Linked DNA regions of Homo sapiens: regions 1, 2 and 4 are each reported to be linked to region 3. Evidence: microRNA targets listed by miRTarBase, many of them from high-throughput screens and not tested one by one. Region 3 holds a microRNA gene; each other region holds the end of a gene's coding sequence.
The links. Region 3 holds the annotated microRNA hsa-miR-6776-3p (CAACCACCACUGUCUCUCCCCAG, at 2,500-2,522, shown strand). A microRNA usually pairs through its seed, bases 2 to 8, with sites in the 3' UTR of a target mRNA and lowers its output. Matches are read on the target gene's strand: a 7mer-m8 pairs with bases 2 to 8, a 7mer-A1 pairs with bases 2 to 7 and ends in A, and an 8mer does both.

Region 1: miRTarBase lists HOXD9 as a target of hsa-miR-6776-3p. The part of its 3' UTR that is shown has no 7-base or 8-base seed match.
Region 2: the mRNA of KIAA0040 is a reported target of hsa-miR-6776-3p. Seed matches in the 3' UTR shown: 7mer-A1 at 2,067-2,073.
Region 4: the mRNA of ASCC1 is a reported target of hsa-miR-6776-3p. Seed matches in the 3' UTR shown: 7mer-m8 at 674-680.

What each region holds. Positions count from the first base shown.
Region 1 is chr2:176,123,723-176,127,722 of GRCh38, forward strand. HOXD9 (homeobox D9) reads left to right here. Exons shown (of 2, transcript NM_014213.4): 2 at 212-1,215. The coding sequence ends at 453. Among named protein-coding and RNA genes, the nearest start is that of HOXD9, 3.0 kb to the left of the region's middle.
Region 2 is chr1:175,157,390-175,161,389 of GRCh38, forward strand. It overlaps KIAA0040, which reads right to left. Exons shown (of 4, transcript NM_014656.3): 4 at 1-3,757. The coding sequence starts at 3,624. The coding sequence ends at 3,325. Among named protein-coding and RNA genes, the nearest start is that of KIAA0040, 33 kb to the right of the region's middle.
Region 3 is chr17:2,691,027-2,695,382 of GRCh38, reverse strand. It overlaps MIR6776 (microRNA 6776), which reads left to right and starts at 2,464; the gene lies at 2,464-2,522. It overlaps CLUH (CLUH binding protein of NUMT mRNA), which reads left to right. Exons shown (of 26, transcript NM_001366661.1): 14 at 1-9; 15 at 103-165; 16 at 282-526; 17 at 819-903; 18 at 1,107-1,260; 19 at 1,344-1,483; 20 at 2,523-2,603; 21 at 2,687-2,812; 22 at 2,901-3,022; 23 at 3,286-3,379; 24 at 3,488-3,622; 25 at 3,701-3,774. RefSeq lists enhancers at 3,157-3,664, 3,665-4,173.
Region 4 is chr10:72,093,895-72,097,894 of GRCh38, reverse strand. It overlaps ASCC1 (activating signal cointegrator 1 complex subunit 1), which reads left to right. Exons shown (of 10, transcript NM_001198800.3): 10 at 445-1,863. The coding sequence ends at 561. Among named protein-coding and RNA genes, the nearest start is that of SPOCK2, 7.3 kb to the right of the region's middle.

The DNA of each region.
Region 1 (4,000 bases), not on the chromosome of region 3:
AAGAGCTTCCCATAACCACCTACCCTGGGCGCTCAGTTAGTACGGTAAACAGAGCGCGAGCATTAAGGCTTTTTATGATAATTCCCCACAAGTTGTGAAAAGCGACCATCCTTGGTGAAATTAATTTAACGACCTCTCTTCCCCACCCTGTGGTCTCTCCCTGCCTCCCCTCCTCTCCTCTCTCCCCGTCTCCAAACCTCCCTCTTTGTAGACAACCCCGCCGCGAACTGGATCCACGCTCGCTCCACCCGGAAAAAGCGCTGTCCCTACACCAAATACCAGACGCTTGAGCTGGAGAAAGAATTCCTCTTCAACATGTACCTCACCCGGGACCGGCGCTACGAGGTGGCCAGGATTCTCAACCTAACAGAGAGACAGGTCAAAATCTGGTTTCAGAACCGTAGGATGAAAATGAAAAAGATGAGCAAGGAGAAATGCCCCAAAGGAGACTGACCCGGCGCGGTGCTGGCGGGAGCGCTCAAGGGCAGCGGATTTGTTGTTGTTGCTGTTTTCCTTTGTGGGTGTTTGGTGCTTGATTTCCAGAAACTCTCCAGCGACTTGGACTTCTTCTTCTTTTTTTTTTTCTTTTTAGATAGAAGTGACTGTGTGGTTGGTCTCTGAGGTATTTGGGGGACTCTGTATTTGCTCGTTTACGTGTTGGAAAAACCAAGTGGCTTTGGGGTTTCGCCCTATCCCACTCCCTCTCTTTCCTGCTCCATTGGTTCCTTAAGAAATGCTATATTTTGTGAGTGCAAGCTGGCTTGGGGAGCCCTCTCTTGTGTAAATGTCCCCCATGTTTCTGAAAAGTGCTGTAGTTTAGTCCCCTCACCCCCAGCACTGCCCAAACAGGGGCCAAGTGCGCCCCAATTCCAAGAATGAAGGCAGAGCGACAACAGTGCGGACACCCCGGCTGCTAGCCCACGGTGAAGCCCGGCGGGGTTGCCCACCAGTTGCGAAAGCCCCCTTTCCTCAGGGAGCACGCGGGACCTCGGTGGAGATCTCCAGTGAGGCTTAGAGGAGCCCAGGGCCTCGGGCGGGTTGGGGTTTGTCCTCAGTGCATTGGACGCGCTGCTCTCTCCCCTGAAGGCTGGGCTCGCGTGGGCGGCCGCGGGTGGTGGCCCTCCCGGTTCCTGCCCGAGGACCAGTTGTAAATGTTACTGCTTCCTACTAATAAATGCTGACCTGATCAAATGGAGCCCAGACGCTGGCCCTAAACATTGTGTGCCTGCTTTCTCTGCCTCTCTGCAAAATATCACACTCAGGATATTTCTCCTCTACCCCTGGGAGTGAGACATTGTTAAAAATTCAGGGCCCTTCCACCTGACAGATCTCTCTGATGTGTCTCTGCCTTCTCTGCCTCACATCCCTTTGTGTAGGCAGATGCAGCAGCACAGACCCTGTGGGGGGACATTGGTGCCTCCCCAAGCCTGGTTCAAGGTCCTCCACGAACTCTGTGCTTGGGCCCAGTGTTAGCCTTGCAGAAGCGCCCAGAAGAGCCAGCAGGCCCCAGAAGCCAGGCACTTTCAGGCTGGGGCTTGGGTACACAGCACCCTAACCTTCCCTGGGCTCCTGAAGCCCCAGATGCCAAACCCCTCTCCAAACAAGGGAAAGGCCAACTCTACACTCTGGAGCAACTGTCCCAGCTCGGTGGGGCTAGCTGGCTCCGGGAGGTCCCAGCTGGTCAGGCTGTGAGCTTCTGCTCCTCCCCACCAAAGCCCCAAAGTGACCTTAGCGATCAAAATGGTCAAGGCTCTCCTCCCCAGCCACCTCCATTTCACCGCCCCCTTCCCCCCACCCAGCTTCTGTGTATGTTTAGCCCCCAGCTTGGCCCTCTGAGGGCTGCATTCAGGGGCTAAAATGAAGGTCATTGTAAGTGAGGGTTTGGGTGAGCACAGCATTTGCAGGCCAAAGAGGCAGCACTGCCAAGTGGCCTGAGCTGGGTGGAAGGTGGGGGCGGTGGCAGAGATCTTGGGGGATCCCAATGAAAGAGGGGACGCGAAGAAAAAGCATAGGGGGGCTGGGAGGGAAAGCCAAGGAAGGCCCAGATCCGGCAGAAGGTGCTGCGCACCCCTGCCACTGTGGCCAGCTGGGTACCTAGGGCTCTTTGAAAACAGGAAGAGCCGAGGTGTCATAAAGCCATCTAGCGGGCCAGACGTCTGGAGGTAATGAGTTTACGACAGGCCCAGTGCTTTGCTTTGAAACCATCTCATTTTGATGTTTGTGTTTGTGGGAGAAAAGGAAAAATGCAGACAAAACTGGGTCTTAAAATCTAGACAATAAAATATAAACAAGACTGCGTTGGACCAAGAAGGCAGGGGCATGGGAGCCCCCAGGTGAGGTGTGAGCACCTAGGAAGTAAACATGAAAGAGGTAGGAAGGAAGAGGTGAATGAATTTCTGATTTTTGAAATGAACCAGGTAATGGAAGTAGCCTAAGGAGATGGCATTTTACAATATTTTGACTATGACCACGGTTTAGCTGGTTCTTTAGAAACAAACAAACAAAAAAATTGGCCTGTTATCTGGGGATAGGGTGGTTAGTGATCTTAGGTCATTTACCCAGGTGAGAGTCTCCCAGAAGTGTGGTTCGCGGGAAAAGATGAAGTTAGATGCCTATTCACAAGAATCTCTGGCCCTCCACTCCAAACTTTGAAGCAAAATGTTGTTGAAATTTATGTCTATTCACTTATAAAAAAATACAATTGTTACACCTAAACTGGAGGAAAGCAGTTTTGAAGATGAGTAAAAAGATTAACCTAACAGGAAACACTTAAGCCAATTGAATAGTCATTGCTTTTAAAAAAAATTCTAGTGGAATGCTTAGTTCAATGACTTTTGATATATATTTTTAAAATCCCATTTATTGTCCATAGAAATTCCAACAAACAGAAGCGCAAAGGGACTTTCCAGACAGCCACTCAGAGATCCAGCAAAAAGCTTTTGATTTGGCTTCGATTCCCCCCAAAATCGGCCACCTAAGTGGGCCCCAAAGCATTAAAGTTACAGTGTTAAAGTAGCAAATATTCATGATTTAATCCTAAAAGTAACAGCTGTAAGAGAAAAACAAAAACATAACAATACTTGATTTCTGTAATTTCTTGGTTGCCAAAGTGTCTGGTTCCTCTGGAAAATAAAAAGCCTCTTGGCAGTTGATATTTAGAAAGTTGTAGGTTTTGTTAAATCTAGCCTGTCCTATAATTGTTTTAAAAGGCACAGCTGGGCGGTTACAGCATGGGGACTTTTGGTGTCTGGCAAAAGAAGGGCTGGAAGCTTTTGGAAAAGACACTACTGGAAGCTGTTGGGAGCACTGATTAGAATATCCTAGGCATACAGGAGCTCCTGCTTGCTGCTCTTGACTTGTTGACAGTCACAGGAATGAAGCATTATTAGTGTCAGCAGTCCAAGCCCCAAATTGAAGAACGAGATTAGAATTGGTTTGAGATGAATAAAAATTAAATTCAGTGGACTGGAGGTGGCATTTGGCCACTAGAGAGCGCTGTTGCTCCACTTTCTGATCTCGTAAAGCTGGAATTGCGGCGGAGAAAGGTTTTGATTAAAAATATTAACAATCTTATTTTTAATCCGAAATTAGGATAATTTTAACCAAAAATAAACAAGGTGTACTATTAATTTCTGTGTTTGCTGGGCATAAAATTTTGGCTCGATCATGGCTTCAGAAACTTTGGACTGTGGCACAGCTGAAACTATAAAACATGATAAATTAATGTATTATATCAAAACAGAAAGCTGTAAAAAGCATAGATCTTTTCTTACTAAGTTAATCGCGCTCTTTTTCTACTCATATTATAAACGGAATGCTTAAATAAATGTTAAAAACTGTTTTGTCCCAAGAGGAAATGTTGTAACGTTTTCTAAATTTGGCCTGAATGTCTATAAATGAATTTTCTAGTGTTCATTTTTCTTTTATTCCCCCGAGGAATCACACAGTTCTACAAGATGCCTGGTATTGTTGAGATCCAGGCTCTTTCATTTTCCCCCCC
Region 2 (4,000 bases), not on the chromosome of region 3:
ACTCTACCATGGCGAAGGCGGTGACCAGGGAGGGCTGGGACATTTGTGTCACAGAAAGAGTCCCTGCATTGATCATTTCTGAGTGATGTCTGAGTGGGGGTAATACCTAATGTTAAGAGAGTAACCATCTGACTACATCAAGACTTTTCATTTTCAAAGTATTTTATTTAAATAAATTTTTCTTTTGTGTGTGTTTGAATTTTACAGAAAAAAATACTGACAAATACTATACAGCTTGGACCCTTTATATTTTTCTTGGAAAGGTGGCTGCCATTTTTCTACCTTTCTCCCTCCCTGCTCCCCCCAAGAAAAAGAAACATGGAATCCATTGAGCAATGGGGAAAGGAGCAATGGGGAAAGGCCTCCTCTGGCTGCCGTCCGGAGCCTGGCTAAAGCTGCTCAGAAGTCCAGGCCTAGGGGATGTCTTTCTCGAGCCTGTGCTGGTCTAGGAAGCCTCTTCTTTAGGAATCATTTTTTTGTCCCCCGTGAACTTACCCTCCCCAGATGAGTCAAGCAGTCTCTGGTCCTGAGGTCCCATGGGTTGCCAGTGGCAGTTCAGGGACAGAGGCTGGAAGGAGTGAAAATGGAGAGGAATAAAGGGCTGGGGCTGGTCTGGTGCAGGCAGAAGAGGGAATCAGAGAAGCATAAAACATGGAGAAAAAGATGAGAAGGAAGTGGAAAGAAGAGAGTGGATATCAACAATGGCCTTAGGCTCCTTTCATGCACCTGTTTATTTAACAAAACGTTTAGGGCCTATCCTGCACTGGGACTCCTCTAGTTACGCCAGGAAAGGTTGTCAGGGGAGTCTGTGATGGGGAAAAGAGAGGCCCCATTCTGGGTTTGGCTCTTCTGAGTCATCGGCTGTGGAAGTGACTGAGAAGTGAGTTTCTGGGTGTTTCATCCCTGGGGTGAGAGCAAGTCCATTGGATTAGGAGACAGCAGGGACATTGTGCCTGGAGATAGAGGCCTTGTCATGGCAATGACAACTGACTGCTGTCTTAATTCAAAGGAGCAAGCAGTTGCCATGGAAACCATGTTACTTGTATGGTCCCGGATCCCGGTGATCCGCCCTCCTAGATCATATCTGACACTACGTCTCAGCTGTCAGCCTCCACCTCTCCCCAGCCATCCATTCTAGGGGGACTGAGAGGTGGAGACAGGAAGGGCAGCTTGTCCTGGTGAGCAGTGGCAGTTGTGGGGAGATGTCTTCCACATCCCTGGGTTTGGTGCAGGCAGATGGCAAGTCATTCTGTTATGTGAAGGGCACAGCCAGAGGCCCCATGACAAACTCTCTATGTGACAAGGGGATAGAGAACCAGAGTGCTTCTTTCTCTGGTCAAAGGGGTTGATGAGTGGGAGGCCTGAGTGCTTAGGCAGTTTATGGCCATATAGGGTGAGAGGGCAAATGTGACTGGCTATAAAATATATGCAGGTTTAAATTATGATTCACAGGGTCATCTGTTAGAAAACCCTGGTGCAAGGGTCACCACTAAATGCCCACCCTCCACAGGCCTAAAGTACACCTGGAGGGCAGGTGAGTACCAAGCAGCCCAAGTGAGCAAATAGAATATATCTTTCCTTTAATGCAATCTTATAGAATTTAGTTTTTTGCTACTATAAATATCATAGTTTAGCTACATTATTAATTAGATAGCAATTTTGCCACTGTGTAGAATAGCTTCCTTGGGAAAATATTTCAAGAGAGCTGCCCAGCATATTTGTAAATAAACTTCTAGAGCATAACTTGCTCCCAAGGAGTGAATTGTCCATCTTTGTAATACAGTCACAATACAATAAAAATACCAAGCAGTTCATCCTATAAGTGGATTAACTCTGCTTCCCAACCTCACTCTGGCGGGGAAAGCCCTCCTCAGCTCACTGTGGATCTAATTTACATGTCCTCACATACCTCAAGGCACATGTGTCACCTACATGTGCTCTCCAGCATTAAACACCCAATTTCATCCATTGCAGCAATTAGTGGGCTCACTTAGAAGAGAAGATCACTCGGGGAGAACTGGTGAGGTATTACAAGCTTACCCTTAACAACATCACATATCCAACAGTAACCACAGTTAGTTATAAGTACCTACTGTGTGCAAGGCACTTGCCTGAGCTTCAATATAAATATAAATAAACCTCTTTATAGCTTCATCCTACTTTCATTTAAACTCTGTTACCTCTGCATCCCACCTGTGCCATACCGTGCACACATCACAACCTTATGACATCACTTCCAGTGTTGCCTTCTGTGAGACTGCACTGATGATTGTCTAGTTCCTTCCCTGCTGGAAACTTTGGTTATATAGGAGATACCTAGCTCAGGTGTAGCATCTCCTCACCCTTTCCATCTGTAAACATTGCACAGGTACACAGTTGCAGTCCACTGACATAAATGAGTGGGCTTCCATAATTTTCTAGCAGTCACCACCAAGAGCTCTTTGTTCTTGCTTGGAGAAAGGCACTTTGCTGAGTGGTTTGCGGGGGTAATGTTTCACAGAGAGGTCTTGGATCACATTAAACACCTCTCAGTGGCAATGAGGACGGACTTTGTCATGAGTTACAAGAAAAGAGCTTTCAATGAATTTTGAACCATCACACTTTAAACATCTTGGCACAGGTGAGGGGTCAGAGGCACAGAAACTTGGTGTGTCTGTATCAAGACACACAAGGGTGGGGACTGTAGCAGGTTGCTGGAATGTCCAATTATGAGTACTTCCAGTAAAAGTTTATGTGTAGAGTTAGAAATAGGAAAGCATGCATCTGTAACCTGAGTGGTTTATGGAATAGATGGTGTATGGGGGCCTTGCTGGTTAGGAAATTGTATATATGTGTCTGAATCTGGCAAGGCTTTCCCATGAGACATTTTTGTGACTGTAGATAATGTACTTCCCTGCACAAAGTACATAGCCAATGACCATTTGATGAGCAGAATATACTTGCCCACGTACCTGCTACCTGAATTTGTGTGTGTGTGTGTTACGTGCATGTGCACACACTTGGGAACCATATTGAGATGTATGGATAAATGTTCTTTGTGCTTTGCATGTGGGGTATGCCAGAGACAGGTGGGAGGCATGCCTGGGTCTGCAGTAAGGAGCATTGCTATTGGACACATAGCTGCCAAGACAGTATCCAAGAATTGTCCACGTGGTCCCTGGGACTGCCCTCCACTGGGACACTTAGTCTGAGGTTTGTTCCTTGGTTGAGTAGTTACTCTGTGGACATGGACATAGTGCATTATTTCAGGGGTTCCTGAAATGTCTGTGTGTGGTCAGAAGGAGGCTTAGCCCCAGAAAGGAAACACCTCTGCTTCCTGCCTAACTAAACAGGCAGTGATGGTCTCTTCTCCATCTGGAGAAGCTTGGGTTGAGCAGAGATCCAGAGGTCTTCTTCATCCTTCTTCTTCTTCTTCTTCTTCTTCTTCTTGTTCTTCTCTGGCTGCTGGCCCCTCTTGCCTGGTGGGCTCCAGCAGCAATGGCAACAGATGAAGAGGAGTGTGATGATCACCAAGAGTGGCAGGCCCAGGAGGACTCCCAGGCAGATGGTGTTGTAGATGCCTTCTTGGTGTTTGGTCAAGATGGTGTCCCAGATAGAGCTGAAGAAGGCACTGATTCTCTCCATGGTGCTTGGCTAGATTAGGGCCAGAGAACCCTCTCGGCTTACAAGCAGGTCCTGGGCTCAAAAGGATGCAACCTTGACCACTTGTAATTTATTCCTCTTCCAGCTTTGGGTTTGGGCATGCCACTGGCAGCACCTGAAGAGATTAAAACAGACAACTGAAGAGAAATGCAGGGGGACTGGTCTACAATTTTAATAGTGTCATAGATTTTAGGCTTAGGAAAGGGGAAGGAATTGAAGATTTCCAGGGTTCAGTAAACTTGTATTGACTCAATAAACAAGATAAATGCATGCATGTAATCAATAAGCATCAACTAATTCTTGCTATGTACACACATTATATTGGGCTTAGGATATAAAAATGAATAGTATATCAGGT
Region 3 (4,356 bases):
CACGTCTTTGTGAGTGCTGCCCGGGGTGGGGCGGAACGGGAGCTGTGGGACTGGGATGGAGGCCGGGGGCCTGACCAAGACCTCCCTTCTGAATCCTTCCAGAAAATCGGCATTGGAGAACTCATCACCCGCTCGGCCAAGCACATCTTCAAGACGTACTTACAGGTGCCACCCGTCCGCTCTGCGGCTGGCCATGGCCTCCCAGGGTGGTGTGGGGCGTCGGGAAAGAGCCTGAGGTGGGGCTGAGGGCCCTCATGACTCGGATCCAACCTGCCTCGCAGGGAGTCGAGCTCTCCGGCCTCTCAGCCGCCATCAGCCACTTCCTGAACTGCTTCCTGAGCTCCTACCCAAACCCCGTGGCCCACCTGCCCGCCGACGAGCTGGTCTCCAAGAAGCGGAATAAGAGGAGGAAAAACCGGCCCCCGGGGGCTGCAGATAACACAGCCTGGGCTGTCATGACCCCCCAGGAGCTCTGGAAGAACATCTGCCAGGAGGCCAAGAACTACTTTGACTTCGACCTCGAGTGGTGCGTGCGGGGCAGGGGCGGTGGGGTGGGTGGGATTGGGCAGATGAGGCGGCCACCACCTGCTCCCAGATGGCGTCTAAGGCCTGTGGTCATAGGCCAGGGAGTCAGAGAGAAGAGGGAGCAGCTGTGGAGATCACTGGGTGCTGGAGGGTGAGGGCAGCCGGGAGGCTCCCGGGGGCCGGGTGGGGCAGTGTTGGGGGCCCGGGCTGGACAGCGTTGGGGAGCTGGGTGGGGCGGTGTTGGGGGGGCCCGGCGGTGCTTGGGCTGCTCAGGCCCCCTGCTCCCTCCTCAGTGAGACCGTGGACCAGGCTGTGGAGACCTACGGCCTGCAGAAGATAACGCTCCTGCGGGAGATCTCGCTGAAAACAGGGATCCAGGTGGGCATGGCTCACAGCATCCCCGCTGTGTCCCCGCTGTGTCCCCGCTGCGTCCCTGCTGCAGGCTCCCACTCCTGGCCAGGGCCACAGGGGAAGTGGCTTTTTCACGGTAGCCGTCTGTGCGCAAGCGTTGGTGGGTTGGGAGGTGCCAACCCGCTGAACCTGGGCCTGAGGCTTCCTGTGGTGGGGGGGCTGCCCCCCAGGTCCTGCTGAAGGAGTACAGCTTCGACAGTCGCCACAAGCCCGCGTTCACCGAGGAGGACGTGCTCAACATCTTCCCCGTGGTCAAGCACGTCAACCCCAAGGCCTCGGATGCCTTCCATTTCTTCCAGAGCGGGCAGGCCAAAGTGCAGCAGGGTGTGTGGCCAGGTGGGGCTGGGTGGAGGTGGGGGTTCCCCATGGCCCGTCCTGACCTTGCCACCCCTGGGGGTGCCCTGCAGGCTTCCTGAAGGAGGGCTGTGAGCTCATCAATGAGGCCCTGAACCTGTTTAACAACGTCTACGGAGCCATGCACGTGGAGACCTGCGCCTGCCTGCGCCTCCTCGCCCGCCTCCACTACATCATGGGCGACTACGCAGAGGTACCCTCTGGGCTGTGGCAGCAAAGGCCTGGCCTCGTGTTGGGGGATGGGGAGTGAGGGGGCCCCTGACGGAGGAGTGGGTGGAGTCCAGGGAGACCCCAGGAAGTCGCTGGTTCTGCCCAGGCCACCCCTGGCTCCACCCCTCTGTAACTGTGTCCCGAGCGGGAGAGCTCAGGAGCACCCTGTGCTGCGGTGAGGTCAGTTCTGGGAGGCGATGGCAGGGGACCCCCCCACAGGGCGTCAGCAAGGACGCCTCCTGAGACTCCGTGAGTGGGCAGGAAGCATGCCACCGAGCTCCCACGTCCTCTGTGCCCAGTGCAGGCTGTGGGGTTCTGGGTGCCCTGCCTGGCCGGGGCTGGTGGAGGCTGTGGTGGGGTTCTGGGTGCCCTGCCTGGCCAGGGCTGTTTCAGGGTTAGCATGTCTTAGGATCCCTACTCCCTGCAAAGGGACTGTTTTTTCTTCTGTTTATAAATGGGTGGGTTGTTTGTTTGTTTGTTTGTTTCTGAGACAGGGTCTTGCTTTGTCACCCAGGCTGGAGTGTAGTGGCGTGATATCGACTCCCTGCAGCCTCAACCTCCTGGGCTCAAGCGATTCTCCCACCTCAGCCTCCCGAGTAGCTGGGATTACAGGCGTGAGCCAGCACACCCAGCTAATTTTTGTATTTTTAGTAGAGATGGGGTTTCATCATGTTGGCCAGGATGGTCTCAAACTCCTGACCTCAAGGGACCCACCCCTGCTCAGGCTTTTTTTTTTTTTTTGTAACATTTTTAGTAGTTTTAGGTTTGTATTTGGGTGTTTGTGGAGATTTTGTTGGGTGTAAGACATGGGTGTGTGGAGCTCTCTGTGGAGCGTGACCTGCCCTTCAAGGTGTGGCAGCAGCTGCTGCTGATCCCCCTCCCCCCTGCTGCACTGTGCTGGGCGCAGCCGGAGGGGACAGGAGCCTGCAGAGCGGCACCGTGGGCTGCTGGGCCGGGGCCAGGCGGGCTCTGGGTGCAGTGGGGGTTCCCACGCCGCGGCAACCACCACTGTCTCTCCCCAGGCCCTGAGTAACCAGCAGAAGGCGGTGCTGATGAGCGAGCGGGTGATGGGCACCGAGCACCCCAACACCATCCAGGAATACGTGAGTCGCGAGTGCCGCCCGCGCCGGGGGATGCGAGGGGCTGGGTCCGCGGCCACCCTGACCTGTCTCCGCCCCGCCCGCAGATGCACCTGGCCCTGTACTGCTTCGCCAGCAGCCAGCTGTCCACCGCCCTGAGCCTGCTGTACCGCGCCCGCTACCTCATGCTGCTGGTGTTCGGGGAAGACCACCCCGAGATGGCGCTGCTGGACGTGAGTGCTGGGGCGGGGGGGCGGCAGGGACCCAGCTCCATCCCAGGGGACCGGGAGCTGACCAGGGCCCCCCACCGCCTGCCCCCAGAACAACATCGGGCTGGTGCTGCACGGGGTGATGGAGTACGACCTGTCGCTGCGCTTCCTGGAGAACGCGCTGGCCGTCAGCACCAAGTACCACGGGCCCAAGGCCCTCAAGGTGGCCCTCAGGTGAGGGGCCGCCCGTCCAAACGCCAAGGCCGGCGGAGGCCTGCGGGGCAGCCGGCGGGGGCGGGGAAGAGACCCAGTGCTCCTGTCTTCCTCCACCCGAGAAAATTTCTCTCGACCTCCCCCTCTTCCCTGAGCCCTGGACTTGCTGTTCCCCTCGGTGGCTTCCAGGGAGGGATCTACGGGAGACCCCGGGCCCCCGAGTCAGGCCCCCACACCCAGCCCACTTATGCCCTTCCCTCGCCCCGCGCCGCGCCTCCCGGCAGCCACCACCTTGTCGCCCGAGTCTACGAGAGCAAAGCTGAGTTCCGGTCGGCCCTGCAGCACGAGAAGGAGGGTTACACCATCTACAAGACGCAGGTGCGCGGCGGGGGCGTGGCGGGGGCGGGGGCGGGGCGGGGGCGTGGCGGGGCGGGGGCGGGGCCGCGGGGGCACGGGGGGGCCTGATCCCTTCCCGCCTCCCCGCAGCTGGGCGAGGACCATGAGAAGACCAAGGAAAGCTCCGAGTACCTCAAGTGCCTGACCCAGCAGGCCGTGGCCCTGCAGCGCACCATGAACGAGATCTACCGCAACGGCTCCAGCGCCAACATCCCGCCCCTCAAGGTGAGTCCGGGGCGGAGCGGCCCCTCCGGCCCGGCGAGCGCGGGAGCCCCGCTCACCGCTGGTTTCCCCGCCCCGCAGTTCACGGCCCCCAGCATGGCCAGCGTCTTGGAGCAGCTGAACGTCATTAACGGCATCCTCTTCATTCCTCTCAGGTGAGGCCTCCGCCCCACTCGAGTGTCTCCCGGTTGGGGGTTTTTTGTGAGTCGGAGTCTCGCCCTGTCACCCGGGCTGGAGTGCGGCGGCGCCATCCCGGCTCACTGCAGCCTCCGCCTCCCGGGTTCAGCGATTCTCCTGCCTCAGCCTCCCCAGTAGCTGGGATTACAGGTGTCCGCCACCTCGCCCGGCTCATTTTTGTGTTTGTAGTAGAGATGGGGTTTCACCACGTTGACCAGGCTGGTCTCGAACTCTTAACCTTGCGATCCGCCCGCCTCGGCCTCTCAGAGTGCTGGGATTCCAGGCGTGAGCCATCGCGCCCGGCCCGCCCCGCTTATCTTCCCCAGCATCCTCGCATTCCGCGAGTGAAGACCTTGGTGTTTCTGCTTCACACAAAGTATCTTGGCGTTTTCCCACCAGTCCCTAAGAAGCGGCTTCATTCCCTCCCCACGCTTCCCATCCTGCGGCGGGGGGGGGCTGAGGAGCAGGCCCCGGGCTCCCCGGGGTGGCCACAAGCAGTGTGGCCTCCTGTGGGGAGTGGATTTGGTCAGCAAGGCGTGGCAGCAGCCCCCCAACTCCGC
Region 4 (4,000 bases), not on the chromosome of region 3:
TGGCGTTGATTAGATATATGTTACGTCAAATTTAACCCTGGTGCAACAAAGCCGAGATCCCTGCATGGTCAGTCACTGGAAGTCAGAAGCAGCCTGGTCAGACTCTGTGAGTCAGGGTGTGGCCATGGGGCGTTTGCTATAAGTTCTTGGTCATATCTGGTCAGTAGATGAATTTCGGATTTGACTTTTCAGAACCTCTTTCTCTGGTGCATTTGTCAGGGGAGACTTTAGAATTAATCAGAGAGAAGAGCTGGCTGTTCTTTTCTCACTCCCACCCCCATCCCTCCTCTCCTGGATCATTATTCAGAGTAAACACTGAAAAGAAAAAGCATGAGAGATTTGTTGGGATTGTTGTGGTTTGGTGTTTTTACAAGATAATCTGATGTTTAATATTTTCATCTATACTTTAAATATTCATTCTGGGTTTTTATTCTTCCTTTTCAGTTGTTTGAGAACTTCTACTTTGGCTCCCTAAAGCTGAATTCAATTCACATCTCTCAGAGGTTCACCGTAGACAGCTTTGGAAACTACGCTTCCTGTGGACAAATTGACTTCTCCTGAGGTGGATCTTGGAAAGCACTAGAAACTAAACATCTTCACCAGGTGCTGAAGAAAAGTGTCTTCGTTTTAATTGCCAAGCAGGGATGTGGACATTTGGATGGTGACTTTCCTGGGTGGTTCCCCATAGATTCACCATTGCCTCTAATGGTGTCTACACCCGTCATACTACCAGCTGAGATGGTGGTGGGCATAAGGAGAATTTGTGCCTATAACCCTTAGTGTGTTCTGGTTTTTTTTCTTTTAATTTTTAAATTGTCGTAAAATACTCATAAAACATACTGTCTTCACCATTTTTAAGTGCACAGTTCAGTAACGTTAACTGTTAATACATTCATAATGCTGTGTGGCCGTCACCGCCGTCCATCTCCATAGGCTTCTCAGCTTGTAAAATGGAAACTGTACCCATTAAACAGTAATTCCCACTCCTCCCAGCCCCCGCAGCCACCATTCTGCTTTCTGTCTCTCTGGTTTTGACTATTCTCAGTATCTCATATAAGTGGAATCATACAGTGACTTGTCTTTTTGTGACTGGCTTATTTCACTTAGCATAATGTCCTCAAGGTTCATCCATGTTGTGTCAGGTGACAGGATTTCCTTCCTGTATTATACATATAATGGAATGTTCCGTTACATGTGCGTACCACACTCTGTTCCTCCATCAGTGAACACTTGGCTTGCTTCCTCTTGACTATTGGGAGTAGTGCTAATACAGACACGGGGGTGCAAATATCTCTTTGAGACTCTGCCTTTAATTCCTTTACCACCCAGAGTTTTATCTTTAGCAAAATAACCATTAAAGTTGTTTGCCTTTTACTTTGCTTGGTCTATCATTTTCCTACCAAAGTTTGTCCTCTTAATATTTGTTGGATTCCTGTTCCTTCACCCCATCCCCACCCTCATCTTCCCATGCCCCTGATGGAGTTGCAGTGTTGCAGCCCTTTTTTGTTTACTTTTCAAGGCAGCAGCAAAAGAAACTGATGATATCAGCAGGACTGTGCAGAGTTCCCTGGAAGAATGTCAGCCACAGGAGGCCCTCACTCCTCCCTCACCACGGACCAGCAGAGGGAGGCGGGAATGCTGGGGAGCCCCAGCCTCCCACCCCTGCCTCCTCACATTCTTCCTCCCTCCATGTCCTCTCCTTCTTCTCCTTCCTTATTCTTGCCTTGATTCTTTCTCTCTTTATATTCTTTAACTGCACTTCTGAACTCTGTGTTAAGTTGCTACATTGTGAGGACTGTGTCTAACAGTGAGATTTATTATTGGGACTGCACAAATCACTTGTGAATAAAATGTTTAACGGTGTTTCTGTTAGTATGATCACATAGTTCACATAGTTTGAATTTGACCCCTTCCTGTGTTGGGATACAATGTTGCCCTCACTTATTTACCAGCATAGCTGGATCATTCATGGAGGACTTACATATTAGTACCTGCAAGGTTGATTTTTTTTTTTTTTTTTTTTTTGAGACGGAGTCTCGCTCTGTCGCCCAGGCTGGAGTACGGTGGCACGATCTCGGCTCACTGCAAGCTCCGCCTCCTGGGTTCACACCATTCTCCTGCCTCAGCCTCCTGAGTAGCTGGGACTACAGGCGCCCGCCACTGCACCCGGCTAATTTTTTTTTTTTTTGTATTTTTAGTAGAGACGGGGCTTCACCTTGTTAGTCAGGATGGTCTCAATCTCCTGACCTCGTGATCTGCCCGTCTCAGCCTCCCAAAGTACTGGGATTGCAGGCGTGAGCCACCGTGCCTGGCCGCAAGGTTGATTTTTTTCCCAGAAGGCCTCCTCTTTCTACGGATATTCATTTTCTATACAAATTGAGATTTTACTTCACCTCAGATTGTTGTTAGGTGGCACTTGGGAATGAGTGCTCCAGGGACAGTGCTGAATTCTGAAGCTGACTATGGAGTTAATGCCCCATCTCATCTTGATGTGCCTCTCTCTCGGTTTCTTTCTGACAAGCCATTGGGCAACCTCAGCCAGGAAGTAAATGTCACTTCTTTTGAGTTTCTGAGACTTATGACTTAACATTTGTAGGAAACTTTTTTTTCTAAGTTTTTTGTCTTTGGAAAATTTAGCTTTATATATTGAATACCAAATTCTTTTTTTTTTTTTTTTTTTTTTGAGACAGGGTCTCACTCTGTCACCCAGTCTGGAGTGCAGTGGCGCAATCATGGCTCACTGCAGCCTTGACCTCTTGGGCTCAAGCTATCCTCCCACCTCAGCCTACCGAGCAGCTGGGACTACAGGCGTGCACCACCATGCCTGGCTACTTTTTATAAAAAAATTTTTTGTAGAGATGGGGTCTCACTGTGTTGCCCAGGCCGATCTCGAACTCCTGGGCTCAAGACATCTTCCTGCCTTGGCCTCCCAAAGTGTTAGGATTACTGCTGTGAGCCACCACACTGGGCCCAAATACCAAATTCTAAATAGAATTGGAAATTGTGTTATTGAGGATTTAGTGATTACTCTTCCCTATGTCTTGTTAAGTAATTCTTCTCAAGTTGTTTGCCTTTTTCCCTCTGTTTCTCTCACCAGTTATACAGTGGGGTTTTCCAGAGGCTCTATGACGCGACAGCATCATCACTCTGGTGGTTAATGGAATGTGTGTTTGTGTATTTCTGAGTTCTCTAGAGTTTTGTAAGTTGGTAGGTATTGGTAGAATTGGAAAATTTTTAACATTTAAATTTTAAAAAATTCCTTTTTTTTCACATGCTGTGGTAGGCAGAGATAAAATATTCTCTCATGAAGTCTGTATTCCAATTTTGGGGACAGTATAGCTCTAAGGAAATACAGTTTTCAGTGCTGTTGTGGAAGAGGGAGTAACAGTTTTGATGTAGAACTTTTATGAAAAAGCAAAATGGTAGAGAGCAACAACAGTAAAAGGGTTAGAGTTAAGGTTCCCCTCTCACCAAATGATAATGGGGTAAATGTTGGAGGATTTGCTGCTGCTGTGCTTACAATCAAACCTTCCTTCATATTACTGTTTTGTAATTCATTCTACACTGAAATAGTTCATTGTACCTAACACTGCTCCAGCCAGCTTTTGAGGCACTGACTTCACCCTCAATTTCTCTTAAGAGGAAGAGGGAAAAAAATCTCTCACTCGCTACTTCACAGAATCTGTGTTGTTATACATGGAACTTTGTTATGGAGAGTAATTTTTATTTTAGACACATTGTAAATGTTTCTTACAATGATTATTTTTAAAGCAAGCTCTAGAGTTTCCAAAACTGGGCATTGAGTAGAATCCAGCATCGTAATAATTCAGATTTGGTTCCTGTTTGCCCTTGTACTGTGCTGGAGCTCACTGTCCTGGAGCTCAAGGGAACCCACTGGCACTAGAGGTGTATTGAGTTGAGTCAATGGAACACCTGTCAGCTTCCATCTCGATACCATAGGGAGCATGAATGTTCAAGCTCTTGCTGCTAGAAGTGATGA